3 linked regions of the Homo sapiens genome follow. The main gene of each other region encodes a partner of the protein of the gene in region 2 in a complex. Links are inferred from orthologs where the notes say so. Each region holds a gene or a part of one and is shown on either strand. Other genes may lie near its edges. The genes, in order: SORT1, NTS and NTSR1. A codon is read from its position in the direction of its gene.

What was found.
Region 1: the proteins of NTS (region 2) and SORT1 are in contact, whole or in part, in a crystal structure (PDB 4PO7), measured with the Homo sapiens proteins. Residues at the interface, in NP_006174.1 of Homo sapiens: Leu152, Tyr153, Glu154, Asn155, Pro160, Tyr161, Ile162, Leu163; in NP_002950.3 of Homo sapiens: Val112, Ser113, Leu114, Ser115, Trp116, Lys260, Tyr304, Ser305, Phe306, Gly307, Leu308, Phe314, Ser316, Arg325, Ile327, Phe350, Tyr351, Ser352, Ile353, Tyr395, Gly399, Thr570 (codon at 9,024), Gly571 (codon at 9,027), Leu572 (codon at 9,030), Ala573 (codon at 9,033), Trp586 (codon at 9,072), Trp597 (codon at 9,105).
Region 3: the proteins of NTS (region 2) and NTSR1 are in contact, whole or in part, in a crystal structure (PDB 4BUO), measured with the Rattus norvegicus proteins. The link is inferred for Homo sapiens from one-to-one orthologs. Residues at the interface, in NP_001095851.1 of Rattus norvegicus: Arg157, Arg158, Pro159, Tyr160, Ile161, Leu162; in NP_001102437.1 of Rattus norvegicus: Ser53, Asp54, Leu55, Asp56, Asn58, Phe128, His132, His133, Tyr146, Met208, Val224, Cys225, Thr226, Pro227, Ile238, Arg327, Arg328, Phe331, Cys332, Tyr333, Ile334, Ser335, Asp336, Trp339, Phe344, Tyr347, His348, Tyr351.

What each region holds. Positions count from the first base shown.
Region 1 is NC_000001.11:109,323,676-109,334,048, reverse strand, and holds part of SORT1 (sortilin isoform 1 preproprotein), read left to right. Parts: intron 1-6,447; coding exon 6,448-6,550; intron 6,551-6,888; coding exon 6,889-7,057; intron 7,058-8,959; coding exon 8,960-9,150; intron 9,151-10,373.
Region 2 is NC_000012.12:85,867,874-85,878,422, forward strand, and holds the start of NTS (neurotensin/neuromedin N preproprotein), read left to right. Parts: upstream 1-6,421; 5' UTR 6,422-6,530; coding exon 6,531-6,603; intron 6,604-8,766; coding exon 8,767-8,828; intron 8,829-10,471; coding exon 10,472-10,549. UniProt on the Homo sapiens protein: Neurotensin may play an endocrine or paracrine role in the regulation of fat metabolism. It causes contraction of smooth muscle.
Region 3 is NC_000020.11:62,710,210-62,720,582, reverse strand, and holds part of NTSR1 (neurotensin receptor type 1), read right to left. Parts: intron 1-10,373. UniProt on the Homo sapiens protein: G-protein coupled receptor for the tridecapeptide neurotensin (NTS). Signaling is effected via G proteins that activate a phosphatidylinositol-calcium second messenger system.

The sequences.
Region 1 (10,373 bases), on a different chromosome or scaffold from region 2:
TCAGCCTCCCAAGTAACTGAGATTACAGGCATGTGCCACCACGCCCGGCTAATTTTTTGTGTCTTTAGTAGTGACGGGGTTTCACCATATTGGCCAGGCTGGTCTCGAACTCCTGACCTCGTGATCCACCCGCCTCTGCCTCCCAAAGTACTGGGATTGCAGGCATGAGCCACCATGCTCGGCCCTGCTGTTATTCATTTTCTAGGAAAATTTCTTACGGTATTGCATAATGGCTGTACCAGTTTACATTCCCACCAACAGTGTACAGGGTTCCCTTTTTTCCATGTCCTTGCCAATACTTACCTTTTATCTCTTTGATAATAGCCATTCTAACTTGGGTGAGATAATATCTCATTGTGGTTTTTATTTGTATTTCCCTCATGATTAGTGATGTTGGGCATTTTTTCGTATACCTGTTGGCCATTTATATGTCTTCTTTTGATAAATGGCTGTTCAGGTCCTTTGCCCATTTTTTAGTTGGATTATTTGTTTTCTTGCTACTGATTTGTTTGGATATTAACCCCTTATAAGATGTATGGTTTGCAAGTATTTTCTCCCATTCTGTGTATTGTTTGTCTTCTCTCTTTTGGTGGTTTCCTTTATTTTGCAGAAGCTTTTTAGTTTGATACAATCTGATTTGTCTGTTTTTGTTTTTTGTTGCCTGTGCTTTTAGGGTCGTATCCAAAAAGCCATTGCCCAGATGAATGTCAAGAAGCTTTTTTCCCTATATTTCCTTCTAGTAGTTTTACAGTTTCAAGTCTTACATTTATGTCTCTAATCCATTTTGAGTTGATTTTTGTACATGACATGAAATAAGGATTGAGGCCAGGTGTGGTGGCTCACGCCTGTAATCCCAGCACTTTGGGAGGCCAAGGAGGGTGGATCACGAGGTCAGGAGATCGAGACCATCCTGGCCAACATGGTGAAATCCCGTCTCTACCAAAAATACAAAAATTAGCTGGGTATGGTGATGTGCACCTGTAGTCCCAGCTACTTGGGAGACTGAGGCAGGAGAATTGCTTGAACCTGGGAGGCGGAGGTTGCAGTGAGCCGAGACCGCACCATTGCACTCCAGCCTGGCGACAGAGCAAGACTCCATCTCAAAAAAAAGAAAGAAGGGTTGAAATTTATTCTTCTGCATATAGATATTCAGTTTTCCCAGCACCGTTTATTTAAGAGGCTGTCTTTTTCACATTGTGTGTTCTTGACACCCTTGTCAAAGTTAAGTTGACAATAAATGCATAGATTTATTTCTGTGCTCTCTATTCTGTTCCATTGGTCTATTTGTTTTTAACGCCAGTACCATGCTGTTTTGATTACTATAGCTCAATAATATATTTTGAAATTAGGTAGCATGATACCCCCAGCTTTGTTCTTTTTGCTTGCAATTACTTTGGTTATTCAGGGTCTTTTGTGGTTCCATATAAATTTTAGGATTTTTTCTATTTCTGTGAAAAATACCATTGGAATTTTTTTTAAGAGGCAAAGTCTTAGTCTGTCACCCTGACTGGGGTCCAGTGGAATAATCATAGGTCACTGCAGCCTCAAACTCCTAGGCTCACACAATCCTCCCACGTCCCAAGTAGCTAGGTGTGTACCACCACACCTGTCTAATTTTGGTACTTTTTGGTAGAGATGGGGTTTCACCATGTTGCCCAAGCTAGTCTTGAACTCCTGGCCTCAAGTGATCCTACCACCTCAGCCTCTCAGCTGGGATTACAGATGTGAGCCACCACAACTGGTTGTTTTGTTCTTGATGTACCTTAAGTACCTAAAACAGTGCCTGAAATATAGCAGGTACTCAGTAAACATCTGATGAATTAACGTGTTTGGATTGTTCTGTGTTGTCACAGAAAGAGGGTTATTTATAACCATATAATAGTAAAAAAAGACAGTCAAAATAATAGGCATTACATTTAATCTGTAGATCACTTTGGGTAGTATGGACATTTTAACAATATTAATTATTCCAATCCAGGAACATAGGATATATTTCCTTTTTTTTTTTTTTGTCATCTTCAATTTCTTTCATCAATGTTTTGTAGTTTTTAGTCTTTCACCTCCTTGGTTAAATTTATCCCTAAGTTTTTTTTGTTTTTTTTTTTTAAGTTTTTTTCTTGTACTATTGTAGATGAAATTTTCTTGATTTCTTTTTTGGATAGTTTGTTGTTAGTGTATATTGTATTTTTATATGTTGATTTTATATTCTGCAACTTTTTTGAATTTATTAGTTTTAACATTTTTGGTGGAGTCTTTAAAGATTAAGGATTTTTATATATAAGCTCATGTCACCTGCAGACAGACAATTTTACCTCTTTCTTTCTGGTTTGGATGCTTTTTGTTTTTATTTCTTTTTCTTACTTAATTGCTCCAGCTAGGACTTCCATTACTATAATGAACAGAAGTGGTGAGAATGGGCATCTTTGTCTTATTCCTGATCTTAGAGGAAAAGGTTTAGCTTTTGACTGTTTGAGTATGATGTTAGCTGTGGGCTTGTCACATATAGCCTTTATTATGTTGAGGTATATCCCTTTTATACCTAATTTATTGAGAGTTTTTATCATGAATGGGTTTATTATGTTGAGGTATATCCCTTTTATACCTAATTTATTGAGAGTTTTTATCATGAATGGGTGTTGAAATTTGTTAAGTGCTTTTTCTGGATTTATCAAGATGATATGATTTCTATCCTTCATTCTATTAATGTGGCATATCTCATTTATTGATTTGCATATGTTGAACCATCCTTGCATTCCACAGATAGATCCTACTTGATCATGGTATATAATCTGTTTAATATGCTGTTGAATTCAGTTTGTTAGTATTTTGTTGAGAATTTTTGCATCTATGTTCATCAGAGATATTGACCTGTAATTTTGTTTTCTTCTAGTGTCCTTGTCTGGTTTTGGTAGCAGGGTAATACCACCCTTATAAAATGAGTTTGGAAGTGTTCCATTCTCTTCAATTTTTGGAAGAGTTTGAGAAGGATCGGTCTTAATTCTTCTTTGAAGAAAGTTTGCTAGAATTCACCATTGAATCCATCAGGTCCTAGGCTTTTCTTGTTGGGAGGTTTTTGATTACTGATTGAGCCTCCTTACTCATATTAGTATGTTCAGATTTTCTATTTCTTCTTCATGATACAGTCTTGGTAAGCTGTATATGTCTAGAAATTCATCCATTTTTTTCTAGATTATCCAATTTGTTGATGTATAGTTGTTCATAGTAGTCTCTTAGGATCCTTTGTTTTTTCTGTAGTATAAGTTATAATGTCTCCTCTTACATTTCTGATTTTACTTGAGTCTTTTCTTTTTTTCTTATTCTAATTAAAAGTTTGTCACTTTTTTATCTTGTCAAAAAAAACAACTCTAAGTTTCATTGATCTTTCCTGTTATTTTTCTAACTTCTATTTCAGTTATTTCTGCTCTGTTATTATTTCCTCCCTTCTGCTAACTTTGGGCTTAGTTTGTTCTTTTTCTAGTTCCTTGAGGTATAAAGTTAAGATTTTTGAGATTTTTCTTTTTTCTTAATGTAGACATTTATCACCATAAACTTTCTTCTTAGAACTGCTTTTGCTGCATCCCTTAAGTTTTAATATGTTGTGTTTCCCTTTTCATTTGTCTCAAGTTTTTTTTATTTCCCTTTGACTCATTGGTTGTTCAAGAATATGTTGTTCAATTTCCACATTCATGTGAATTTTCCAATTTTCCTCCCTTTACTGATTCTAGTTTCATAATGTTGTAGTTGAAAAGAACTTGAGGCCAGGCACACTGGCTCACGCCTATAATCCTTGCACTTTGGGAGGCTGAGGTGGGTGGATCACGAGGTCAGGAGTTCAAGACCAGCCTGGCCGACTTGGTCTCTACTAAAAATACAAAAAAAAAATAGCTGGGCGTGGCAGCGGGTGCCTTTAATCCCAGCTACTCAGGAGGCTGAGGCAGAGAATTGTTTGAACCCGGGAGGCGGAGCTTGCAGTGAGCCAAGATCACGCCACTGCACTCCAGCCCAGGTGACAGAGTGAGACTCCGTCTCAAAAAAAAAAGAAAGGATACTTGAGGTGATTTCAGTCTTACATTTGTTAAGGCTTGTTTTGTGGCCTAACATATGCACTATCCTGGAGAATATTCTCTGTGCACTTGAAAAGAATGTATATTCTGCTGCTATTGGATAGAATGTTCTGTATATGTCTGTTAGGTCCATTTGTATGGTGTTGTTCAAGTTTGCTCTTTCCTTACTGGTTTTCTGTCTGGATGATCTATCATTGAAAGTAAGTATTGAAGTCCCTTACTATTATTGTATTGTCGTCTACCTCTTTCTTCAGTTCTGTTAATGTTTGCTTTATACATTTAGGTGCTCTAATGTTGAGTGCATTTATATTTACCAATGTTATATGCTCTTGATGAATTGACACCTTTATCATTGTGTGGTAACTTTCTTTATCCCTTGTGATAGTTTTTTACTTAAAGTCTATTTTGTCTGATATAAATATAGCCACCCCCGGCTGGACATGGTGGCTCACGCCTGTAATCCCAGCTCTTTGGGAGACCAAGGCGGGCGGATCACGAGGTCAGGAAATCAAGACCGTCCTCACTAACATGGTGAAACCCTGTCTCTACTAAAAATACAAAAAATTAGCCGGGTGTGGTGGCAGGCGCCTGTAGTCCCAGCTACTTGGGAGGCTGAGGCAGGAGAATGGCATGAACCCAGGAGGCAGAGCTTGCAGTGAGCTGAGATGGCACCACCGCACTCCAGCCTGGGTGGCAGAGCGACACTCCGTCTCAAAAATAAATAAATAAATATAGCCACCCCTGCTCTCTTTTGGCTACCATTTGAGTGGAATATCTTTTTTTTATCTCTACTTTTAGCCTATGTGTCCTCTTACACACATAGGCCTTTACAGATGGCTTCAGCAGGGGAAGCCCTTACCAGGTAGCTCATCCAGAGATTCTTGGGGGGGCAACTGACAGGTTCTGCAGGTAGGTGGGCCTGGTGCCTTGGTCTTTGGGGGTAGCTTGGAGGCTGGGTCCTCTGCGGCAGGCCTGGCAGTGGAATCCACTAGGGTGGACCTTTTAAGTGGGTCTTCAGGTGAAACACCTGGAGCCCGGTAAGTAGATCTGCAGGAGCCAGCCTGGTGCAGGGGTGGGCCCTACCCTGAGCCTGCAGGGGCTGGCCTGATGCAGGGGTCCACTTGGCTGGGTCTGTGAGAGTGGACCTGGAGCCTTTAAGTTTCTTAAAGACAAGACTGGATCTTATTTCGAACCACCATCACATCTTGTACGGTGTCTGAAGTATATCAGGTGCTTATCAAGTTTATTTGTGTAGAGTCAGCCTTTAAACATTGTTCAGAGGCTTTGATGTAATGCAAAAATAAAATAAACGGAGACAGGTTACCCATGAGGAAATATTTGCTTCCAGATATTGTAGTACATTTCAGAATCAAGAGTATGCCACTGAGCTACAACTCAACAACAAACAAATAGCCTGAATAAAAAATAGGCAAAGAACTTGTATAGACATTTCTCCAAACACAATATAGAAGTGACTAACAAGCATATAAAAAGAGGCTCAGCATCACTAATCATTAGGAAAATGCAAGTCAAAACCACAATGAGGTATCTCCTCACACAGATTAGGGTGGCTACTATTTTAAAAAGTGTTGGCAAGGATATGGAGAAATTGGAGCCCTGGTGCACTTTTGGTGAAAATGTAAAATGGTGCAGCTGCTACAGAAAACAGCATAGTAGTTCCTAAAAAAAATTAAAAATAGGATTATCATATCCAGCAATTCCACTTCTGGATTATACATCCAAAAGAGTTGAAAGCAGGTTCTCAAAAAGATATTTGTACAACCATGTACATAGCAACATTATTCATGATAGCCAAAAGGTAGAAGCAACTTGTGTCTATTGACAGATAAATGAGTAAATAAAGTGTGGGGTGTGTGTGGATACAGATACACACACACACTTAAATAATATTTAGCCTTTAAAAGGGAGGAAATTCTGACATATGCTATTAATACAACATGGATGAGCCTTGAGGACATTATGCCAAGTGAAATAAGTCAGACACAAAATGACAAATATTATGTGATTCTACTTATATGAGCTACCTAGAGTAGCCAACACAAAGTAATATGGTAAAAATCATAGAAAACACAAAGTAAAATGGTAGTTTCCAGGAGCTGGGAGGAGGAAGAAGTAGGTAACAGTTGCTTAATTGGTGATTGTATTTTATAAGATGAAAAAGTTTAGAGATGTGGTTGTACAACAATGTGAATATACTTAACACTACTGAACTATACACCTAAATAGTAAATAAATAGTTAAGATAGTACTTTTACCTAGGTCTGGGTTAACTTAAAGCTTTATTGGAAGGGTTTTGTGAAATGATTAAAGAAATTGTATCTTTATCTTTGGTTCTAATCTACGCTTTTGTTTCTTTTCACAGTGCAGCCTTCATATTCATGCTTCCTACAGCATCTCCCAGAAACTGAATGTTCCAATGGCCCCACTCTCAGAGCCGAATGCCGTAGGCATTGTCATTGCTCATGGTAAGGAACCTCCCACTCACCACCTCCAACTGGAACAGTGGCTGAGCACACTGAAACTCAGCCAACAGGCTTTGAACGCTCTGAGAAGAAACAATGTGGATGCTTTTACATTCCTTTGGTAGAATTTCTTACATTATAACAACACTTTGGGTTTTTCATCAACTTTTATCAGAGAGAGCAACACAACTTCTCCGAAGTTTTTGGTGGTTTTCTTTCCTACTAAAAGAGGCTTGATGGGAAATAATCAGAATAAATTCATTCAACATTATTCTCTCTGGAGTAAATGCTCTCTGTTTCATTGCCTATTTGTGCTAATGAGATGGTGGATTATATTGCAGGTAGCGTGGGGGATGCCATCTCAGTGATGGTTCCAGATGTGTACATCTCAGATGATGGGGGTTACTCCTGGACAAAGATGCTGGAAGGACCCCACTATTACACCATCCTGGATTCTGGAGGCATCATTGTGGCCATTGAGCACAGCAGCCGTCCTATCAATGTGATTAAGTATGCATGAACTCATCTCACACACACTGTCTGCATAGAGGGCAACTGGGGGAATGTTCTTCAGTTTATTGGGGGGATGTTACAGACTATAATTCAAATTTTTGCATTTGACAGAACTATAGATAAGATTCTAGAAAGGATTGCTTTTAATTGGCAACTCAGATTAAATGGCATTGTTTTTTCTTCTGACTGCCTTTAGCTAACATATTTGTCACTTCTTAAAAACATTCTTTCTGGGTTGGGCGCAGTGGCTCATGCCTGTAATCCCAGCATTTTGGGAGGCCAAAGCAGGAGGATCGCTTGAGGCCAGGAGTTCAAGACCAGCCTGGGCAACATAGGGAGACCTTGTCCCTTGTCTCTAATATTATTTCAATCAAAAAAAAAACCATATATATATATATGTGTGTGTGTATATATGTATGTGTGTGTGTGTATATATATGTGTATATATATGTATATATATGTGTATATATATGTGTATGTGTGTATATATGTGTGTATATATATGTGTGTGTGTGTGTGTATGTATATATATATATATATATATATATATATATATATATTCTTTCTGTCTACAAAATTATTATGGAAGCGTTCAAGCACTCTAGATTGAAAATGACTTCTTAAGTACAAGTTCTGAGCTGGGTGCAGAGGCACACACCTGTAATCCCAGCACTTTGAGAGGCCAAGGTGGGTGGATTGCTTGAGCCCAAGAGTTCAAGACCAGCCTGGGCAATGTGACAAAACCCTGTCTCCACAAAAAAAAAAAAAGAAAAATTAGCTGGGCGTGGTGGTGCACGCCTTTGGTTCCAGCTACTTGGGAGGCCGAGGTGGGAGGATCACCTGAGGAGGTCAAGGCCACAGTGAGCTGAGATCGTACCACTGCACTCCAGCCTGGGTGACAGAGTGAGATCCCGTCTCAAAAAAAAAAAAAAAAGAAGTATAAGTTCTTATAAAATAATTTGATTGTTATTTATTTATTTATTTATTGAGATGGAGTTTTGCTCTTGTCACCCAGGCTGGAGTGCAATGGTGCAATCTTGGCTCACTGCAACCTCTGCCTCCCAGGTTCAAATGATTCTTGCGTCTCAGTCACCTGAGCAGCTGAGATTACAGGCATGCACCACCACACCCAGCTAATTTTTGTGGTTTTTTGTTTTGCTTTGTTTTTTGTGTTTTGGTAGAGACGGGGTTTTGTTGTGTTGGTCAGGCTGGTCTCGAACTCCTAACCTCAGGTGATTCACCTGCCTCAGCCTCCCAAAATTCTGGGATTACAGGCGTGAGCCACCACAGCCAGCCTTAAATTTATTAATTTAAAAGCCAGTTCTTACCTGGGTCACTCTCCTGTCTTTCCTTTGAAATAATTTCTGTAAAGGTATTTACTTTCATATTCTCTCTGAACAAATCTCTTCCTTATCCTGTTAACTACAGACGTTAAAAGTTAAAATAGTTGGCTGGGTGCGGTGGCTCACGCCTATAATCCCAGCACTTTGGGAGGCCAAGGTGGGAAGATTACCTGAGGTCAGGAGTTCAAGACCAGCCTGCCCAACATGTGAAACTCCATTTCTACTAAAAATACAAAAATTAGCTGGTGTGGTGGCACGTTCCTGTAATCCCAGCTACTCAGGAGGCTGAGGCATGAGAGAGAATCACTTGAACCCAGGAGGCAGAGGTTGCAGTGAGTCGAGATCGCGCCACTGCACTCCAGCCCGGTGACAGAGTGAGACTCCATCTCAGAAAAAAAAAAAAAAAAAAAAAAAGTTAAAATAATTGTCAGCCAATAAGCCACCACCTAAATGTAAGGGGTTTTGTCTGGTTTGGGATCAAAAAGCCAGAGTGGTTTTCTGAATTCCCAGTACACATTGATCCTCTGTCATGATCTTTCTGTAATTGTGGTTTCAGGTTCTCCACAGACGAAGGTCAATGCTGGCAAACCTACACGTTCACCAGGGACCCCATCTATTTCACTGGCCTAGCTTCAGAACCTGGAGCTAGGTCCATGAATATCAGCATTTGGGGCTTCACAGAATCTTTCCTGACCAGCCAGTGGGTCTCCTACACCATTGATTTTAAAGATATCCTTGAAAGGAACTGTGAGTGTCTCCTTTGACCTTTTCTACCAGAAACTTCCAAGTCCATTTTCCTAAATAATCAATATGGTTTAATTTCTTTTAGCTGGAATCAGCAGATGCATATGCATATGAAAGAGGATTGACAGATGTTCTGTGTGGGTGATTAAGTAATGGAATGGCATCAGAAAAACAACCTCCTCCTCGGTGCTAGCACTGTCCAGGAGAAATATGAGGGCCACATATGTCATTTAAATTATTCTGTCAGCTATATTATAAAAGTAAAAAGAAAGGTGATATTAATAAAATAAACTTAATATATCCAAAATATTATCATTTCAACATTAAGCAATATTAACGGCCCAGAAAATAGGTTCAGAAAAGGATTCACAATGTTCATTGCACAGTGTTTCCAAAGTGTCACAAGCAAACCCTAACCTCACTGCCAAACAAAGATGCTGGCATTATGCTAAGAAATAAGGGGAATGGCCAGGCGCGGTGGCTCATGCCTGTAATCCTAGCACTTTGAGAGGCCAAGATAGGCAGATCACGAGGTCAGGAGTTCGAAACCAGCCTGGCCAACAGGGCGAAACTCCATCTCTACTAAAAATAGAAAAATTAGCCAGGTAAGGTGGCGGGTGCCTGTAAGGTGGCGGGTCCCAGCTAGTTGGGAGGCTGAGGCAGGAGAATCATTTGAACCCGAGAGGAAGAGGTTGCAATGAGCCAAGATCATGCCATTGCACTCCAGCCTGGGCGACAAGAGCAAGACTCTGTCTCAAAAAAAAAAGAAGGGGGATAAAGAAAAACACTGGAAAAAGGATGACCTGTAGTTAAGTGTTGGCATAATACAATAAAAGACTTAACGTTTCTAGACACTCTAGTTGAATTTGGTCCTTTGAGACTGTCGTGGGCTCATTTCCTCAGCGTGTTGATTTAGTGACTCCTGAAGGAGCAGACCCTTGGTTTGGACCTCACATTTCCATAAGACGTTCAAATAGATTTAATGCCTGAGGGTCGCTGTCATCTAAATCCATTCAGTAGACTGTACAGAAGCTGGCTTGGGAGTTCTCCCCTCAGCAGGCAGCTCCCAGTTACCCCTAAAGTGTAATGTCATTAAAAGATTTGTTAAGCACCTGCTCTTTAGCAGGCTGTATGCTGGTCTTCATATCCCAAAGGATAAAACCTAATCCACTGTCTTTAGGTCACAGCCTTTGAGTCATTTTTCCAGTAGATGATACGACATACTA
Region 2 (10,549 bases):
ATCTCTTATTTTTTTTAACCTGCACAATAGGAATAATATCCTGTGAACTCTGCTTCACGGTATGCTATGTTACATGAAATAAAATTAACCTGGCATATAGTAGGTTTTCAATAATGAATTTGAAAAGTATTCTTTAGATTACTCCTAGATCTGTAGTAGTGGTTACAGTGGCTGTTTCTTCTAGACTCAGAATGCTCTAATGTTGACTATAGTCTTCTCTGTCTGACAGCTTGCCGGTACTTATCCTTTCTGCACAAATTGGCTCACCAAATTTGGGGCCTTCTGTAACACCGTACACCCAGTTTTCCTCAAGGACAACTTAGAAAATTCCAACTGAAATTAAATCAATATTCAAGAATCTTTGAAAGGAAGCATTTTTTCATACTATTTCATTTTGCTAGGAATTTCTCCGAAAGAGGTTTCCTGGATTTTATTATTCACAGATTGGAGAATAAAAATGTCCTTGTGAGAGGTGAGGGAGTGGTAGCTTATTCTAAAACCATCAGGGAGGGATTCTTGGAATTCGATTAATTCATTAACGCATATTGTCAATATTTACCGAATGATTACTATGAGGAGAATTATTTATGTTCTGATAATTTAGGGAAACAAGACAAGAATATCCATGCTTTTATTAACAAAAGACAAAAATAAATGAACAAATAAAGACTTGTAGAGATTGAATGGGGATAGTGGTGAAATAGGTTTTAAAATAAATGGTTGTATCAGTCAGCTATTGCCACAAAAATGGTGTATAACAAGTGACTCCAAAAGTCAATTACTTTAAAGCAAATTATTTAACTCTGTTCACATGTCTCTGAATCAGCTAGGGTAACCCTGCTTTAAGCTCGGGAATCTCTCCCTTACATTGCAGGTGTGCAAGTCAGCTGGGGCAGCTTTGCTCCATATGTCCCTCCTCATTTTGGGATCATCTGAGAAAAGAAAAGAGTTTCTCATGGCAATGGCAGAAGAGAGAAAGGGAAAGCCCTATGTGTCAAGCACAAATCAAGTCTGTCTTTTTCTTATGTCTACTAACATCCCACTGGCCAAAGCAAGTCTCATTTCCTAAGTTAAAGTCAAAGAGTGAGGAAGTATATTTCATCCACTCTGGGAGGAGTAAGGGAATGAATATTTGATGAACAGTAATCACAGTTTTCATTGCAGATCTTTAACAAAAAAGCTTAGCATGTTGCACAAAAGCCAGAAGACCAATGTGCTTGAAACATAGGAACAGAAGGGGAGAATGGTGGAATATGATGATAGAGAGGAAGACAAAACCCACTCAGGTAGCATAGGCCATCATCAGGCATGACAAGAGGAAACCTTTAGAATGTTTTAAGCAGAGAATGACAGGAATAGATTTACATTTTTAAAAACTTTTCTGGAGTTTTTGAAAGCTGAAAGGGATCAAGGTTGTAGGGAGACTACTCAAATGGTTATTATGGCAGCGCAGGAGAAAGATGGTGGTGGCTTGGACTTAGGTGGCAAAAATGACATAAGGAAAAGTAGTTAGATTTGAAATATATTTTGGAACAGACCTGCACCCCAGGGGGTTTTGCTAGCTTGGAAGTGGAGGGGAGAGAGAAACAATGTAAATGGATTCTAGTTTTTAGATCTGTGCAACTCAGTAAATCATGGTTCTAATAATTGAAATGAAAAACTCTAGAGGGGCAGAAGATTATTAGAAAGATGTTTGGAGGAATCAAAAGTTTTACTTTAGACAATAAGTCTGCCTAATGAAACTCCAAGTAGGGCTGCTAATGAGGTGATTGCATATACAATTTGAGTAGTCAGAGATACAAACTTGGAGGTTATTAGGAAATAGATAGGATTCAAAACCATAAGACTTATCAGATTCACTGGGAAAGCACAGTAAATTTAAAAAGAATCATAAACCCAAGGAGTATGAATAATATAAAACCATTACATTCCAAATTTAACATGTAATATCTTCTTGAGAAAAAGAAAAAAAGTGTTTCACTGAATTTGCTCCTGATAGACGGTAGCTCAAGTACATCTGCTCTGTTTCAGGTATTGCAGGTGCTATGGAAATTTTCTTAGACTTTGTAATATTAAAAAAGAAAAGAGAAAGTTTTCTTATAATAAGAATTTGTCTCATTTATTACATTAGATAATTACACTAATTTATAAAACTAAGAAACATGAAAGAAGAAATTTGTCAGGAACATTTTTTTCTGTAATACTTTTATTTTGGTCTTATTCAAAAGGGAGACCTATAAGGAAAACTACCTGAGCATTACACATAATGGGTGGTGATTTTGTGAGTATTTACATTTTTTCCTAGACACGAGAAGCAAGATTATAGGTGAAGTCAGCAATGGCTGCAATGTGGAGCATGGTTAGTTAAATACAGTAACTCATTAACATGTAAGTCCCAAGCAAACCGTATTTTGTAATTACGGTTTAAGTTGCAAAATATGCTTTGACTACAGAAGTCAGTCATCAATTTTTCCAGGTTAATTACCTATATGGATGCAATAACAGAGATAGGAAGAGCTGAAAGGAAATGAGCTAGGAATTTGTAAGGATTATGGGCAAAGCAAGGTTACATGCAGATTGGGAAACTGAACGTTTGTTTACATTTACCTAAATCTCCAAGGTTGGGTTATACACATCCTATGTGGGTGTATGCATGCACACATCCATCTGTATTTCTAGAAAATATACTTTAATTGAACAGAAAAATCAATTGGGTTCACAGACTTTGACATCATTATTTGTTCAGATGAATCAGAGTTACAGCTTCAAATGATAGACTCATTTATAGAAATGGAGCAAACTCACAATTTATCTAAACATTCAGCTGATGATTGTACATGATCCAAGGACAATCTTCTTGAATGATTTTTTTAAAGTTAACATTTCCAGTCAGAGAGGAAAAGGATGATGAGAGAAAAGGCTGAGAAAACTGACTATAAAAGCTCACATAAAATATGAAGATTAATGATAACAAAAGAGTGTTAAAAGGTGTGGCTGAAAGAAACATTTAAAATTAAAACATGGAAAGGGCATGTAAGAAATTAAACGTAATCAGTATTTTCATTTAATTTAGTAAGTATGTATTGATCACTTATGGATTATAAACCTTAGAAGTCAGAATGTTCTCCTTCTAGCAGTTTACAGTTTACCATAAACTGTATAAACAAACTACGGAGCATTTAACAGAAAACTAGGAAAAATAGAAGTAGACGAGACTACTTTCAGGACTCAAACTTGGAAATGTTTTTGTTGATTAAGCCATAAAATACAGGATGATCATAGGAAGGTGAAGGGGAGATTCCAGGTTGTAAAAACACAACAGGCCAAGTTTCAGGTATTTAGGTTACCAAAAGATTGGAAAATCCTGGAAGCTGTTAATGAGGTATTAAAGTCACCAGAGCTATAGGAAAAAACCATAAGGAACTGAAAAACCAACCCTTGATCAGTTGGTTCCAGAGCTTGCCCTTCTCCAAACAAAATAAGCTTACAGACCACTCTTTCTAACTGCCAATTCTTCAGGTGTCTCTGTTGATTATTTTCAGCAATTACCTAATAAAGGTCTGACATAAGTAACAGTACAAGCTTAGAAATCTACCTACTTTAGAGATGTTGTAATCAACAGGTACCTAACAGGTAACATCCACTTAAGAAGGCCAACACAGGAATATTATTAAAGGACAATGCTTAAAATCTTTATCAGATATTTTAAGAACTAGGTAACCCTTAGAAGGATCTAAGGTATGCCGGGCATGGTGGCTCACGCCTGTAATCCCAGCACTTTGGGAGGCCGAGGTGGGCGGATCATGAGGTCAAGAGATCGAGACCATCCTGGCCAACATGGTGAAACCCCGTCTCTACTAAAAATACAAGAATTAGCTGGGCCTGGTGGTGTGCCTGTAGTCCCAGCTACTCGGGGGGCTGAGGCAGGAGAGTTGCTTGAACCCAGGAGGTGGAGACTGCAGTGAGCCGAGATCACACCACTGCACTCCAGCCTGGTGACAGAGAGAAGCTCCATCTCAAAAAAAAAAAAAAAGAAAAAAGAAAAAGGATCTGGGGTAAAAAGCCTTTAAAATAAAAACAGTTCACCCATCTCCATAGCAAGGTGTCTACAATCCTGCATTAAAGGCATCATTTAGGAAGTTCGTAGGGTACTTTTTAAGTGGAAAAATACATACTTAACCTTTATCCCTACAACAAATTGTTTTATTGGTTTATGTGTAGCTTGAAGGCATTAGATTAGAGCAAGAAACAAAAAGCCTAACACATTAAAGAAAATACCAATTAGAGGTCAAAGTTTATCTACATCATAATTTTACCAAAGTTATACATCTTTTTTCCCCAAAAGAAAAGTAGCATATAGCATCTATTTGAATTTGAATTATTTGACATAACTTAATGTTTCCCCTATTCTTGAATATTTATCACATATCTCAATTTTCACATTAACAACTAATATCCATGTTATATATTTAAAATGAATTTCCATTAATTCTTCTCCCCCTTTTTTCTAATTAATTAGGGATCAATTTTGTCAACATATTGAAGAAATCATCTGAGGAAAATAAGAATCACATTTCCTTTTTACTATTAGACTGCTATCACACATTTTAAAAGATCATTCTTTGTATTTGCAATTCAAAAGCAGAGAAAACAACTAATTTAATTATCATGCAAAGTATATATAATTTTCCCGATTTGTTAATCAAAGTGGCTTTAAGAGGATTCTGTCACAAAGATGCTCTGATAGTAACAGGAAAGTAAGCACAAATCCTCACTGAGACTCTGTTAAGTGAAAACCAAGTGTTTCAAGCTTCCATTGCTCCCCCTAATGGTAGGAAAGCAGAAAACATCTAGACGTATGTATTTCACATTTGTCAACTAAATACTTTACAGAAACCTTCCTCCATGTGAGTATGTTCAATATTGTGTTTTATGTAAGTTCAGAAAACAAACTAAAAGTAATAAATATATCAGTTATTATTAAATTTCTGGTATTATATGAAAGACTCCTTGCTATTCTAAGTAATTATTAAATGTTTGGATTTAATCGCTTTGCTTAAGTTTTGGGTAAAGGTGAAAAAGTTAAACTCATAGATTGTATAATATAAATCAATTATCTATAGGAACCAATCCTATTTTTTCTCAACTGTTACTACATGATTGATTTATTTAAAAATTAAACAAGACTCAGACAACTTTACATTCAAATATTCACATCTCTAACAGCACTGACTTGTCAAATTACCCCATGTATCTTGAAATGCTTACTACAAGAAGAAAGTTTTACTCTAAAAGGCATTTTGAACAATTTTCTTTTGAGAACTCAGACAAAGAATGGGTATCAGTGTAACTCATGAAATACATGAAGACTATCATAGAAAAGTGACTTTGGTGAATGGTGGTTATTTAGGATTGTCTCCTTTCCAAAAGTACAATCTCTTTTTTTATGGTGAAAAGAGTATTATAACAGGGAAAGAAAGCCGATGCAATAGTAAAAACTGTTGAGAAGGGAATTATACAAAGAGTGAGACATGGCATCAAGAATGAATTCAAAAAGAGCAGAAAAATATAGGCATAAAAAGAGATAATGTACAGAAAAAAAGTCAGTGATACAACAACACAAATTTTTACCTGCTAGAATGTAAGTAATTTAGAGCTGGATTTTATAAACATGAAATTGTTTTTCTAATACATTCAACCAAAAGTCAGCACACATAGTTCAGTCATCTCTCATTACTTACAATAAAATATTTTCTATTTGTTAGGAAATAATATCTTATTCCCTGGATCTATTATTTCTTTTTATTGATTTTCTTTCTATTCTCTAAACTTAATTGCTTAATTTTTATAACTGATTCTCTGTCTCTATTCCATCTTATTCCAGCATGGATTATTTAAAACCTGTATTAGTTTTGGAACCACTAAACATTTGCTCAGAAGTTTGAATTACCAGAGAAGCACCCTAACTCTTCAAGAACTTCCAAGCCTAAGGAATCACTGATTTCATGCATTCATCCTGGAGATTTTCCTTAAAAATTAGAAATAACAGATCTCATGTTTCACAAAATCAAAATGACAACTTTTGGAGTGGGGGAATGAGAAGTGGGAAAAGGATGATACTGGGGGTTCTTTGTCAGTATGCTGTATGTATGCTGTATGTCAGTGCAGTTGAATGACTCCTTCTGTGCGTCAGAAATCCAAAGCAGCAGCAGCAGCAATTAGGGAAGATCGTCACTTTCACTCAAGGTTCAGAAATGGGGGAGGAGAGCAGGGGGGACAAAGGAAAAGGGGAGGAGAAAGCAGGGCAAAGAGGGGAGGGATGGAGGTGAAGATAGGGCACATCCTGCAAAGATAATGTCTGTACAATCAATGACATCATCCTCCTGCTTATATATATAGGGGAATGGCCAGAGCACCTCTCATAGTTCACTCACTTTCAAAGCCAGCTGAAGGAAAGAGGAAGTGCTAGAGAGAGCCCCCTTCAGTGTGCTTCTGACTTTTACGGACTTGGCTTGTTAGAAGGCTGAAAGATGATGGCAGGAATGAAAATCCAGCTTGTATGCATGCTACTCCTGGCTTTCAGCTCCTGGAGTCTGTGCTCAGGTAAGCAAAACAGAATTTCACAACTCCCTGAAGTGATTTCTTTTTTCTCTTTTGCAGTGTGTTGCTACTTATGTTAATGTATCTGGGGAGAAGAGTTGCTCCCTTTTATTCAGGATTTACCTTTTAGTGACAGAAACTGAGTATCTCTTTCTCTGCCTTTATGATTACTGAGAGATGTATTTTCTCTTTTAAAATCTGCAAAGCAATAAAAGGGATTTCAATGAAACACTGCACGACCTCCTTTGGAATTCAACAACTAGAGGGAAAAAAACCCTACAAAACTTTCAATTAGGCTGATCATTATCTAATGAGAAATACAGAGGCAGTGGCTGTCAACCTGCAAACCCATCATTAAATCCCATTCCATTCAAAATGTTTTACTCTCATCCTCATTCATTCTCTTAGGAAGCGGTGGCCCTCACGCCCTTGTAATAGTCCCCGTATTATTTTCTTGTTTGTGTTAAGATAACAAATAAAGTGAAAATTGATACTTAGTGAAAAATGAAGCATTATTTGTAGAAAATTATTTCTAGAAAAATACAAAAATATTCCAGATCCTTTTTGAGAACAGAATTTGCATAGTCTAATAAGTGTGCTATTAATATAACTGTTTGGCATTTTTTCCATGCCATTTAAGTTAATACAAAATACAATTGGAAAATTGGTATTCTTATATTGATGGAAATTATTTGACTTTAGAGTGTTTTGCATGTGGTTTGAAAGAAGTTATATAGTCCTAAGTATCTACGAATAACTCACTTTGAAAATAAGACTTAAATTGAAAGGTATAACATGAAATATTACAACCATTGCAAAAGGCTCTACTTAATATTTAAGAAATATTACAATGAACACTTCAAAGGGAAAAGAACACATTAGGAAGCAAATGCAGCAAAAATAATTTAACCTGTTCTGTGCTTTTATGTATCATAAATATGACATGGAAATGTTTAACTCAAACTCATGCTATCATTTGATTTAAATTATGAAATTAAAATCTAAGAAGATATAAATGTGATTTATACAAAATTTTAAATTTATTTTAATCATCAGAACATAACTTTCAGCTTCTACTTTTTAAATCTTATGAGAAAAAACAAACTTTTCTATAATTATGATTTTATCTGAAAGTTATATGAGATTAAAGATTCACATACTTCTGGAAGAAAAACTGGGTTATTGATTAAGCACTGTGTTTATTAACTTGAAACTACTTGTTGTAATAATGCAATAGTTATAAGGATTTTGGTATACATTGTTCATAAATTCCTAAAACAGATTATGTCTCTAACAAATAGTGAGAAAAGATCTCTTGTATAATTTAGGTTCTAGGTAAAATTAAGCCAATGGGTTCTCCAATTGTGGCATTTCTTTTTACTGAGTGTGTAGTACAAGGAAGATAGAGTCATTTTTAACTTTATTTTTATTATTGTATAGTATTTTCCAAATTTTCCTTCTCTGTAAAATATTCATTAACAGAAACTTGGATAGAGTTTTTTAAAAATCCAGAGATCCATTTTCAATGCTGTTGTACATGTGTTGTTGAACAGCTCCACTTTTGCTTTAAACAATTTCCTTAAATGCCTATGAAAAAATTGAGGATACATAATTTTGAATTCTCTTAAAGTACAATACAATTCTTTCAACGTGTGTTTTGTAAAAAACATCTCAAGTTAAGTAAACCTCAGTATCTTTATTATTCTAAAATTATCAGTAAGCAATTCCCTTTGGTTTTGTCTTGAAAAAGTCTCTTGTATAGTCTTCATTATGTTGTGTTTTTAAATGTTAATATGCATATTTTCTATATATGTAAACTGTGGCTGGTAAGAAATAAGCTACTCTAGCATATTTGGTAAAATATGTGTTATACAATGTAATCACATTTTTAAAGCCTGAAATTCAAAGATTAAACAACTCCCAGTGATCAATAGCTGTCTGAAAAATAATCATATGCTTATTTTCTTAGAAGTGCTTCTACTATTTTAGCTTCCTATTATGCTAAAGTATAACTATAATTTGTTTTTTAGGATTACTATTTTTAAGAAAATACATAAGAAAGACACTAACCTCTAAGATTTTTTTTTAGATTAACCTAAAATCTGTAGATTATGATATAATTATATGATATGTAATTATAGTAAACCTGATTTTGATTTTACTCAGATTCAGAAGAGGAAATGAAAGCATTAGAAGCAGATTTCTTGACCAATATGCATACATCAAAGGTAACTTTTTCTTTTCTTTAACCCTGAGTTGAAGAACATATGAACTTTCATTATAAACATGGTATCCTTTTCCCATAGTAATAACTTCTCATCAAGATTGAAAAGTTCCTTGAGAGGCATTTCCTTTTTGAAAAAAAAAATTTCTTTTAGTTAAAAGAAGTTAAAGGTGTTGATATGACAGGCAAAGAAATTATAATTCTATCAATCAGCATGTTGCAATTTTAATTAATTGCCACACATATTTACTTGCCTGTAAATGTTTTTAAAGGAACTTGCTTCCATGCCTTTTACATTGGGTATGATGAAAGGTATATTGGTCTCAAGTTAAATGAAAACAAAGTGAGCTCTTTGCCTTTTTTATTATATTGGGGGAAATAAAAAGGTGTTCCTAAATTAGAAATAAAAGTTCATGACAACCTGCAAAAGAAATGTAGTATAGAGGGGATAGCAATGGACTGGTAAGCAGGAGCATTGAGATCTAATCCTGAAACAGTGACTTATTAAATATTTTATCTTTAGCAAGTGGATTAGTTCACCTTGCTTACCTGTGTTTCCTTGTTTTTAAATGCAGGGATTGCAGTTCGTAATCTTCTAGACATTTACCGTTCTACAATGTATTTAGGAATTACTAAACTGTACTCTTCATTGTATGTCTGGATTTAAATTCTCCCTATAACAAACATGTTATTTTTACATGTTCTTTTTTTTTTTTTTTTTAATTGAGCCAAATACAACTTTGTATCCTGGGCCCTATTACTCCTCTATTGGGGTCTTGAAAGCCAGTTTTTAAAATTCCAATCTGTACCTAGGAATACGTTCTGGGGTACATGGGCAGGATGTGCAGGTTTGTTAGATAGGCAAACATATGCCTTGGTGGTTTTCTGCACCTATCAACCCATCACCTAGGTATTAAGCCTAGCATGCATTAGCCCTTCCTCCTCCACTCCACCCTCTGACAGGCCCCGGTGTGGGTTGTTCCCCTTCCTGTGCCCATGTGTTCTCATTGTTTAGTACTCAATCAGAATACCAATGGCTACAACCTCTTCAGTTCAAAAATAGACAACTGAAGTTAATAGTCCGTGTTAGAAAATGGGATAAGTTAGGTGTCTTGGTGTCTTGGTATAGGTTTACCTAATTCCCAGATGCAAGTTAATACATGAAGGTTCTATATAATCTGTGATGCTACCCATAACAATTATTAATGTGTGGAATGCATTACTAGCCTCATACTTTGTAATTGTCCACATTTAATAATACCATCTTTGTCACTGCTCCATTACATGTTAAGCTGAAATGTAATAGAGACAGAATAATTTTTTATTTTTAATTTTTCATCTGTGATATATATATCATTTATATATTTCTGCCATCATTTTAATTTCCTTGCTTTCTTACTTTGCTCTGTGTGTACACACATAAGTGCATGTATATGTGAATATAACTATTGCATTTTATTAAACAGAAGTTATGAGATATTGGCAGTATACAACTTTGTGAACTGATGTTACTAAATAAATAACACTATATTTATTAGACTGGAGTAGCAATTAGACCCTAAATGTGATGGTTTAGCACACTAGGAATTCATTTCTTGCTCATGTAACACAAGTTTTAATTGCAGGGGTTTTTTTAATATATTTCAGATTAGTAAAGCACATGTTCCCTCTTGGAAGATGACTCTGCTAAATGTTTGCAGTCTTGTAAATAATTTGAACAGCCCA
Region 3 (10,373 bases), on a different chromosome or scaffold from region 2:
TGAAAAAGAACAATAATGTTAATAAAATCCTAGCCATATTGCCCAAGGAGAAAAGAGAGAAGTCACAGATTACCAATATTAGAAATGAACAAGGAGACACTATTACTGACCCCACAGACATTAAAAGGATGATGACAGAATACCACAAATAAATCTATGCTCTAAAATTTGACAAAATAGATTATATGGACCAATTCCTCAAAAGATACAAATTACTAACACTTACTCAAGGAGAAATATATAACCTGAATATTCCTTTATCTTTTAAAATAATTTGTCTTGTGAGATGGAGTCTCGCTCTGTCACCTAGGCTGGTGTGCAGTGGCGTGATCTCGGTTCATTGCAACCTCCACCTCCCGAGTTAAAGCGATTCTCCTGCCTTAGCCTCCCGAGTTGCCAGGACTACAGGTGCCCACCACCACACCTGGCTAAGTTTTGTATTTTTAGTAGAGACAGGGTTTCATCCTGTTGGCCAGGCTGGTCTCAAACTCCTGACCTCAGGTGATCCACCCTCCTTGGCCTCCCACGGTGCTGGGATTACAGGCCTGAACCACTACACCTGGTTTCTTTGAAAAGAATTGAATTTATAAAAACCTTCCTACAAAACTCCAGGCCCGGATGGTTTTGCTGGACAATCTACCAAAGCTTTAAAGAGGAAATCATGCCAATTCTACACAACCTCTGACAGAAAACACAAAAGGAACAAGAACCTCCCAGCTCATGTTATGAGGCCAGAAAACCAGATGAAGATAACCCAGGAAAATAAACTTACAGACCAATATTTCTCATGAGCATAGACACAAAAATTCTCAGCAAAACACTAGCAAGTCAAAACCAGCTAATACACGACGAAATGAGGTCTATCCCAGGAATGTGAGGCTGGTTCATCATTCAAGAATTAACCAAGGTTTTCCACTTATATTTGGCCCCCGGAGTGGTCAAATTCACAGAGACAAAAAGTAGAATGGCGGTTGCCAGGGGCTGGGGGAGGAGGAGATGGGGAGTTAGTGTTTAACAGGCGCAGAGCTTCAGTTTGGAAAGATGAAAAGAGCTCTGGAGAGGGAGGGTGGAGATGGTCGCATGACGATGTACCGAGAGGGAGGGTGGGGATGATCGTATGACGATGTACCGAGAGGGAGGGTGGAGATGGTCATGTGACAGTGTACTTAGTGCCACAGAACTGTGCACTTATATTGATTAAAGTGGTAAATTTTACGTGATGTACATTTTATCACAACTGGAAAGTAATCAATATAATTCACCACATTAACTGACTAATGGAGAAAATCCACATGATCTTGCCACATGATGAGACAGAAAAATCACTGCACAAAATTTAACATTCATTCACGATGAAGAAAAAAATCTCTCAGCACACTAGGAATATAAGGAAACTTTCCTAACTTTATAAAGAGCTCTAACAAAAACTTAAATAAACGAAAAACTTTTTTTTTTTTTTGAAAGAAAAAAAAAGGGACTGGAAGCAAGGCAAGGATGTCTACTCTCATCACTCCTATTCACCATCATACTGGACGTCATAGCCAGAGCAGTGAGGCAAGACCAGGAGCTGGCCAGGATGCAGAGTGACCACTGCTTCATGTGGGTTAAGGCTAGGGTGAGGGACGTTCAAAACAGCGCATCGCTTAGGAAACACTGGCAAACATACACTTTCTGTATGACCCAGCAATCTGAAACCTACGTATTTACTCATGAGAAATGAAAATGTATATTCACACAAAATTCATCATATGTGAATATTTGTAGCTACTTTATTCATAATCGCCCAAACCCAGAAACAACCCAGAAGTCTTTTGGTGGGCAAATGCCTCAACAAAACGTGGTCCATCCACAGAATGGATCTGACTGCACAATAAAAAGGAACGCCTGGTCAATGCAGGCAACAGCTCAGAGGATGCAGTGAAGGAAGAAGGCCGGCTCGAGAGGCCACAGCCCAGCTGGCTCCATTCACTCGACGTCCCAGAAAAGGCAAAGCTGTGGGGGAGGAGAGCGGACCAGTGGGTGGAGGGGCGGGCATCGGGGCGGGTGGGCCACAGGGCTGGAGGGCGGGGGCCGGTGTGTCTTCTGAAGTGGGGATACATGGCTGCATTTATCGAAGCTCATAGGTGCGAACAAGCACAGAAGGGAATCTTATTGCCTGTCAGTCGAAAAATGAAGTAGGAACAACGAAAAGCACGTCTCTGGTATCCAACCCCTCTCCGCCACCTTCTCCACCCCCACCCTGGCCTAGGACTCCTTGGTCACTCCCCAGGCATCCAGCAGCAGCTTCCCAACCATTCTGACCCCTAAATGCATTCTCCACAAAGCAGTCAGAACTGTCCCTTTAACGTGTAAGTCACGTGGCGGCTCTGCTCAGAATCTCCCACGCCCACTCACTTCTTCCAGAATAAAAGCTGTGGCGAGGTCTACGAGGCATGATCTGCCCGTGGCTTCTCACACGGCCCTCTGCTCCCTCCGCTCCGGCCACCCCGCCAGGCCAGCGCTGTTCCTCCAGCACCCCCAGCACGTGCCTGCCCTGGGGTCTTTGCACCTGCTGTTCCCCTACCTGGCATCTTCCCCGACGCCCACCGGAGTGCTCCTGCAGGGTCTGCACGAGGCCTTCCTGACCTGCCTGCACCCCCACGCTCCCCCCGTGTGGTTTTCTCTGCGGCTCTCGTTACTCCTTGCCGGCCATGTATGGTGCCTATTTATTTCGCTTATTTTCTGTCTTCTCTGATGGGACGTGAGTTCAAAGGGCCAGAACTTTTTGCCAGTTTTTTTGGGCTGCTATACCCCCATCCTGGCATGTGGTAGGTGTTCAGTGAATGAATGATGAGTGAATGAAGGAAGGAAGGAAAGATGTTAGCCCAGATGCTCAGAAGAGAATTCCTCCTGCCTGGGGAGGCTCCCAGCCCTCCCAAGCGCTGCTGCATTTCTGCCGTTGTCCAGGGGAGAACACAAATCATGCTCATGGGCGATTGAGTCCTTCTTCCACCCCAGGCACAGTCTCCAGCGTTTTATGTCATTAACTCATGAGACTGCAGGGCAATCGCTACCTCCAGTTGGCTTATGGGGAAACAGAGGCACAGATGGTCACACCATTTGCCCAGAGTCGTGCTGCTGGCCAGTGGTGAAGCTGGGATTTGAACCTGGGTTCTGGCAAGCCAGCCATTCCAAGCCACTGGGGACAACCCAAAACCACCTATTCTCGGGAAGCATTCTCCTGATCTCCTTCTTGCTTCCCTGACTGCCTTCAGGAGCCAGCCCTGGGTATGTAGGACACAGCCCCCACAGGTGCACAGGGATGTAAAATCCCAAAGTAGGCACGGGTGGCTTCGGGTGGGTCAGCATGCTGGGCACCTCCCCTCTCCAACCTGTGCCAGGTCCACGTGGCACTCCAGACCCAGGGCTCTCACCTTGCCCTCCTGGGGTGGGTGGTGCCCCACTGGCAATGCTTTTGGGAAGAGCAGTGGGCACCAGGGTGGGGCAGGCGCCTTGCCCCGCTCTGGGCCTCAGTTTCTTCATTGACGCTGCAGAGCCCGGTGGTCCCCCTCCGGAGCTGTGCATTCCCCTTGGGGTGACACATGGACGGGGACAGCCCCTTGGCCACTGCGCCTTCACTGGCGATGGCAAGGTCAAACTCCAGGGCATGGCGGGGGAACAGTGGGGGTCTCTGAGACAGGCAGACCCCATGGCTGTGACCTCAGTAACACCATCCCCACCAAGCGCCAAGAACCAGGATCTCTATTCCCCTCCGTGCCCCCCTTGCAGAGCTAGCCTCGTGCAGGCAGCAGCCTGGTCAGGGAGCGAGGGGCTGCCGGGATGGGGGCTCATGCTCTTCACAGCCCTTCATGGCCGTCCAGGGGAGGACGATCTTGAGTGCACACAGGCCCACAGGAGGGAGGACCTGGCCACCCGAAACAGCCTTGAGCGGACGGCAGCTCGGTCACTCTCTGCTGCTGTTGTTTTTCACAGACTCACGGAGGCAGGACTAACACGCGCTGAAATCCACCCCTCAGTCTACAGCCCCACGAGCTTTGAACCACAACCAACACAGACTCACGGAGGCGGGACTAACGCGCTGAAACCACGAGCTATGATCCACAACGAAGATACAGAACATTTCCGTCACCCCAGAGTTCCCAGCGCCCCTATGGCCACCCCACCCCTCCTCCGACCTTCCTCCTGTCCCAACGGCTCAGCGTTGTCCAGAACCTCAAGTGCTTGGAATCACCCAGGGCCTTGGAGTCTGGCGTCTTTCAGCAGCAAGCCTGCCTTCAAGAACCTGCATCTTAGAGAAGACCCAGGGGAGGCCTGAGATTCTGCCAGTCTGAGTCATCCACCTCACCGAGCCAGAAAGCAGAAAAGAGGTTACCAGGCGCTGGGGGTCAGGGTTTAATGGGGACAGAGTTTCAGTCTGGGGAGAGAGAAGGTTCTGGAGGTGGATGGTGGCGACGGTTGCACAGCAATGTGAACGTGCTTCACGCCGCTCAACTGTGCCCTTCCAGATGGTAAAACAGCACATTTTAAGTGATGTGTGTTTCACCATGAATCAAAAATAAAGAAAAGCTTCTTTCTTCTCTTAATACAAACTACTAGATCACCACGTGAGATTTGATTGAGAAAAACGAAGGCAGCCTCTGGTTCGTGCACAGGTCGGACGTCCTCTCGGGCCCTGCTCAGCCCAGGGCCCTCTCTGCCCATCATCAGATGTTACCAGCTGGGAGCCCCAGTGCCCCTGAGAACAGACCTGGAGATCCCTGGGCTGCTGCCTGAGGCCTGCCTCACCTGTGGGGTGGCTTGTGGTGGTTCTTGGCAAGCACAGGGTGGCTGTACCCCCTTGCTGCCCTCAGTACCCACAGAACTGCAGGCACAGCCCCAGGACCCCATTTGTCCTTGGAGTTGAACATCCTCAGAATGCTGTCAGTCCAAGTGCAGGACAGCCCGGGAGAGCTGACCCCGGGTCACAATGCAGAGCTGTGAACAGGTGAGCCTGAACCACTCTGGGCCAAGTCACTCTCGAGGACTCCAAGCCCAGTCAGAGCCAGCCATGGCCAGCTCTGGGCCCCTCACGTTCCCACCCTTGCCCATCTCACTCAAAAGCCTGACCGTTGTCCCCACGGGGAGCACCACAGGGTCAGGCTAGGCCTTCCCTTCTGAGAGCACCTCCAGGCCCTGTCTCTCTCCAGCCACGTGATGTGCACAGGTGGCTCTGCCCTCTGCTTCATCTGGGAAACGGGGTTACGGGGTACAGAGGTGGACCCGCATGTCTGCACGTCCTCACCCTGCCGTCTCCCACCTGGCTCCAACAGGCAGGTCTGGTGCCTGGAACAAGGCCAAGGTCACCTCCCTGTCCTGCCCTCTCACCCCCCACAGCCTCAGAGTCACCATCTGAACGGTGATTTCATACGCCAAATTCTTTATTTCCAACATATAGCACCTTAACCTTTTGAAAACTTTTAATTACTAAATTTTTCAAACATGCCAAAAATGTCATCAACACTCACTTTCCATGATTACAGACTTAAGACCAATCTTGTCTCCTCTGTAGCCCTCCCACAGCCCCTTCCCCCAGATCACGCTTCAGTAAATCTGAGACATTGCATCATTTTGTCTGTAAACATTTCCGCATGTACCTCTAAGAGAGCAGGACCATTTTGAAAACCATACCCACAACAGCTCTGGACAACAAGAATTTGTAGCTATTCACTACCTAGGCTTTTTTGCTGTTTCTTGGCAGGAAGAATGATCAGCTTTGGTGCCGGCTTTCTGCGACAGGTTGACTTGTCCGAGTCTTTGCTAAGAAACCAGGCCACCGTCTCCGATTCCCTCACTGTTTGTAGAACAGAACGAGTTGTTTATTTGGAGCTGTTTCTTGTGGTCTGGGTTTTGCTGGCTGCATCCTAATGGTACATTTGTCCCTGTTCCTCTGTCCCTGGTGTGTCCTGTGTGTTGGATCAGGGGCTCCATGAGATTCAGATTCAATGGCTTTGCTCCAAGGATGCCACGAGGCTGTGTGCACACCAGGGCTCACCTCACACCTAACTCTCTCCCCTTCGTGACCCCAGCAGCTGTCAAGAATCCATGCCTACATCCATTGATTTATGAGGATTGCACCTGATGGGTGGTATTCTGACCATCCTGCTCCTTCTTCACTTATTGATGAACATTTCTGGGCTGAGACACTGCCTTTTATCTACTCTTGGGTTATTCTAAAGTACCGTTTGAATAGAAAAGGCAGGAAAAATACTCCATTCCTTTCCTCTAAAGGGTCATGGGCTCAGACTGGAGGAAGTGTGTGACTCTTGGCCCCACACCAACAGCCCTCTATGCCCTGCGCTGCAGGTGAGGACACTGTGGCCGCTACGGCCAGAGCCAGAGCTGCCCACAGCTGCGTGGCGTGGGTCCCCTTCCCGTCCTCACGGGAGGTCAGAGTGGAGCAGGCTGTTCCTAAGGACCCCTTGAAGAACTTCTTCTGCAACTTTTTTTTTCTTTGAGACAGTTGTCACCCAGGCTGGAGTGCAGTGGTGTGATCTTGGCTCACTGCAACCTCCGCCTCCCAAGCTCAAGCGATTCTCCTGCCTCAGCCTCCCAAGTAGCTGGGATTACAGGCATCCTTCACGACGCCCAGCTAATTTTTGTATTTTTAGTAGAGATGGGTTTTCGCCATGTTGGCCAGGCTGGGCTTGAACTCCTGACCTCAGGTGATCCGCCTGCCTCAGCCTCCCAAAGTGCTGGGATTACAGGTGTGAGCCACCACGCCCGGCCTTCTGCAACTTTCTAACTTGAAAAAGTTCCTACTGCAGAACAGTTGCAGGAAGAATGCCCAGGACACTCAGCTGCCTGTGGCAGGGCTGCAGCCCAATGCCGCATGACCCGCAAGCAGTCTCCTCCCTTGATTCACTGTCTGCTTGCTCTCCTTCCATTTGGCCACACCTTTCTTTCTGAATGATTTGAGAATAAGTTGCAGACTCCACACTCTAAACACCTCTGTATCCTTCCTAAGAACAAGGATGCTGCCTGTGGAGGTTGCTGGGCACAGCCTGGGGCACGGGACAGGAGCCCTGAAATAATCCATGGCCAGATTTCACTGGAACCTGTCTCCTTCCCTGTCTCAGCCGCCTCTCCTTTCCCGGAATTCTGCCAGCCCTGAACGGCTGGGGTGTTTGCCAAGTCGCCCTGTGATCTGTCTGCTCCTGGACGCCTCTGGAGCAGGGGTTGTAGGACACCAGCGCCTCCTGCACAAATTGAGGCCCCTGTCTGCCCCTGGGAGGGAGCAGGTGCCCTCTGAGTTGGGGTCTAACCCAGCGAAGAGCACTGCTGTTTGTACTCAATATGAAGAAGGCTTTCAGAAAAAACAAGGAGGAGGCAGGGAGGCTGAGCCTGCAGGAGCAGGACTCCCTTGGTGCAGAAAATGGCAATGATGAAAGGAGTCCTCACGGCTGCTCAGGAGGGTCTAATGGACTCGTGCCTGTGAGGCTGGGAGGGTTTGCTTTCGTGTGTGGCCATAGTCAGGGGCGGGTCTCTAAAACTGTTTCAAAGGCTGCAGCCACCTCATCTGATTTGAATCGGACACCTGAAGTCCCAGGCCCCTGCCACTGTGGGCCCCTGGACACACACATGTGTGCACACGTTCAGTATACACGCCATGGACAGATGACAGATAAGCATGGGACTCTGATGACCCACCATCTGGGCCATCAGCCCTGAGCCCTGCCACACAGATCGTGTGCCACTGGGACCCTGTCACAGCCGAGGTCAAAGCTGAGCTGGAGGTTGGGCCTGGGCCATGGGGGACCATCCAAGAAGCAAGGGCCATCTGCCCGTGTGGGGCCACGTGTGCGGGTGGGTTAGAGGATGGGTAGGACAGTCCAGGGGAACCCAGGGGCACCCGTAGGTCCCTGAGCCCCCAGCTCCTCCTCCCAGTCACCCTGCTGGCACCAGGGCCAGGTCTGGGGCCTTTGGGAGGGTCCTGGGCACCAGGTCCTGTCTGCTGACCTGAGAGCCCTGCCCACTCCACCATCAACTCCCAGTCCCAGCTACACACTAGGAAAATGCCCAGCTGGCTTCAGGGAGGATTATTGTAAGTTGCTCCAAAGTGTTATCACTGAACCACCTCATTTCTAAACACAATTTCTGTTTGCAAGTGCCCAGGCCAAAATTTCGTAGGAGACGCTGGGGCAGGAAAGGACCCCTGTTTTGGAAAGAGGGGCCATTTGATTGGCCACTGCCCCAACACTTCCAAACATGGTCACTGAGAGGGAGACACTTAGCTCAGGGTATCCAGCCCCTCTTCAGCCAGACATCACCATCTGAAAACCGTGGATGTTTGCCCAGATCTGCCAATGGCCCAGAAGCCCACGTGGGGACCGTAAACCCCCTAATTCCGGGGAAACCTTTCATAAAATGGCAAATGGCGGGGCAGGGGTCAGGGGAAGCCAAGGCCTCTCCTACGAGGAATGTTCTTTTCAAGCACACAGAGCAGCTGGCATCGGGGCCCTGGAAAGCCCCAGGTCATCAGCATCGGATGGAGGAGCACCCTTGTAATCAGCTGCTCCCAGGCACGCAGCTGAGCCCTTTAAAGAAAAATGGAAACTACGTTCTCCAAGGGTGCCTTCAGCAACGCTCGGCCAGCATGGCGTCTGCAGGGCGTGGGGCCGCTGTCCTACGGTTGATACGTCACAGGCCTCTGCGATTGGACGAGTGCCTGTGGCCGGCCGTAGCGTGACTTGGCCAAATCTGCCTCGCAGCCTCTGAGCAACAAGGCTGGGCAGGTGGTGCTTTGGGAGGCAAAGTGATGTCCCCCAGGTGCCCAATCCCAAGTACCTGGCAGAGAGCCCACGCACGCGGGGAGGACACTTTCCGGGGGGCGGAGCCGAGCTGTCCTCACGCCCCTGTGCTTTTCGGCTGTTTGTTTTTGAGGACTGCAGGAGGCTGGTGAGCTCCTGGCCTTTTGCCAGGGGAGCAGGGGGATCGGGGTTCTGAGCGGGGGGATCGGGGATCTGAGCGGGGGGATCGGGGGTCTGAGTGGGGGGATCCGGGGTCTGAGTGGGGGCATCTCCTGGGTGGGCAGTGACAGCGCTGACCCCTCCACTGCCCACCTTCTGAAGGACTGAGTGGCTGTCGCCCCTGGGGCCCCTCCACGCGGACTGGGGAGAGGTTCCCCCTGGCCAATGCCAATCAAAGACAGGAGCTTGGGGAGAGCAGATAAAGCCTCAAAGGGAGGGAGAGGTCATTTCTCACTGTGTTTACCCCACAGGCCGTGCCTACTTCTGCCTCTGGTGAGGGGAGGGACTCTCGCCGCAGAAGCAAAGCAGCCCTGACTCACTGCCTGCCACCAGTGTCTGTGGGAGGGGCCTCCCCGAGATGGGACACCTGTAGCCACCAGTTCTATGTGCAGCCAGGGAGACTGGGAGCTCAGTTCTACCCTCCTCCACCCCCCAGCCCACCTGGGTGGTGGCCAGTGGAGGGTCAGTTAGGGCCCAGGGAGTGACAGACAGGTGACCCCCTGCCCGGCACTGCTGCCCTCACCCCCACCGGGCATACTGGCATACGCGGGGTGCCCAGGCAACTACAGAAGCTTAGCTGGGAGGCTGGCGATGCTGGTGTGTGGGGAGTTGGGGGGACAGCCAGCCACCCTGGCCCCTCTAGCTGGGCAGAGGTAGGCGACTCTGCCCGGATCCTTCACCCTCTGGCTTCCTTAGCCCACCAGAAATGGAGGAAACCCCACACTTCTAAGGCTGCTCATTTCCAAGATGCCTTTCAAAGTTCCCGACCGGCCCTGACTTCCTCCCTGGACACCAGCCTCCTGCTCGGGGCTTTGGTTTGATCAGCCCTCCCCTCCAGCACTGGAACCCCCCGTGCCACGAACCTCAGCCAAACTGATTCCCAAGGGGGCTTCCCACCCGCATTCCCACGGCGCTTTGCTCAGACCCTTGGAGGGCCCTTAGTCACTCGGCTCCAGTTTTACACACCTCACCACAACACCGCCGCCACACGCAGATCCTCACAACCTTCCCCGCAGAAACATCGTCCCCACCATCCCGCAATAATAGTGCCTGTGAGCCCTTCTATGTGTCAGGGGCCATGCAAACACTTCCCACGCGTCCTCTCTCCAATGCTCTACCTTCTGAGGTCAATGCTATCACTACCCCATCACACAGATGGGAAAGCTGAGGCTAAACTAGGAACTGGCCCAACACGGCATCAGGTTCTGTTCTGACTCCCAAGTTTGGGTCAGGGCAGGCAGCTGGGAGGCACCGGCAGAGCCAGTCTGGGGGCTTCTCTGCAGAGGAAGGAACATCACCTGTTGGTGGCACAGTCTTTTGAGAAGCTGATGAAAGTGTTACTCTTCCTTTGGAGACGCAGGTGCCAGC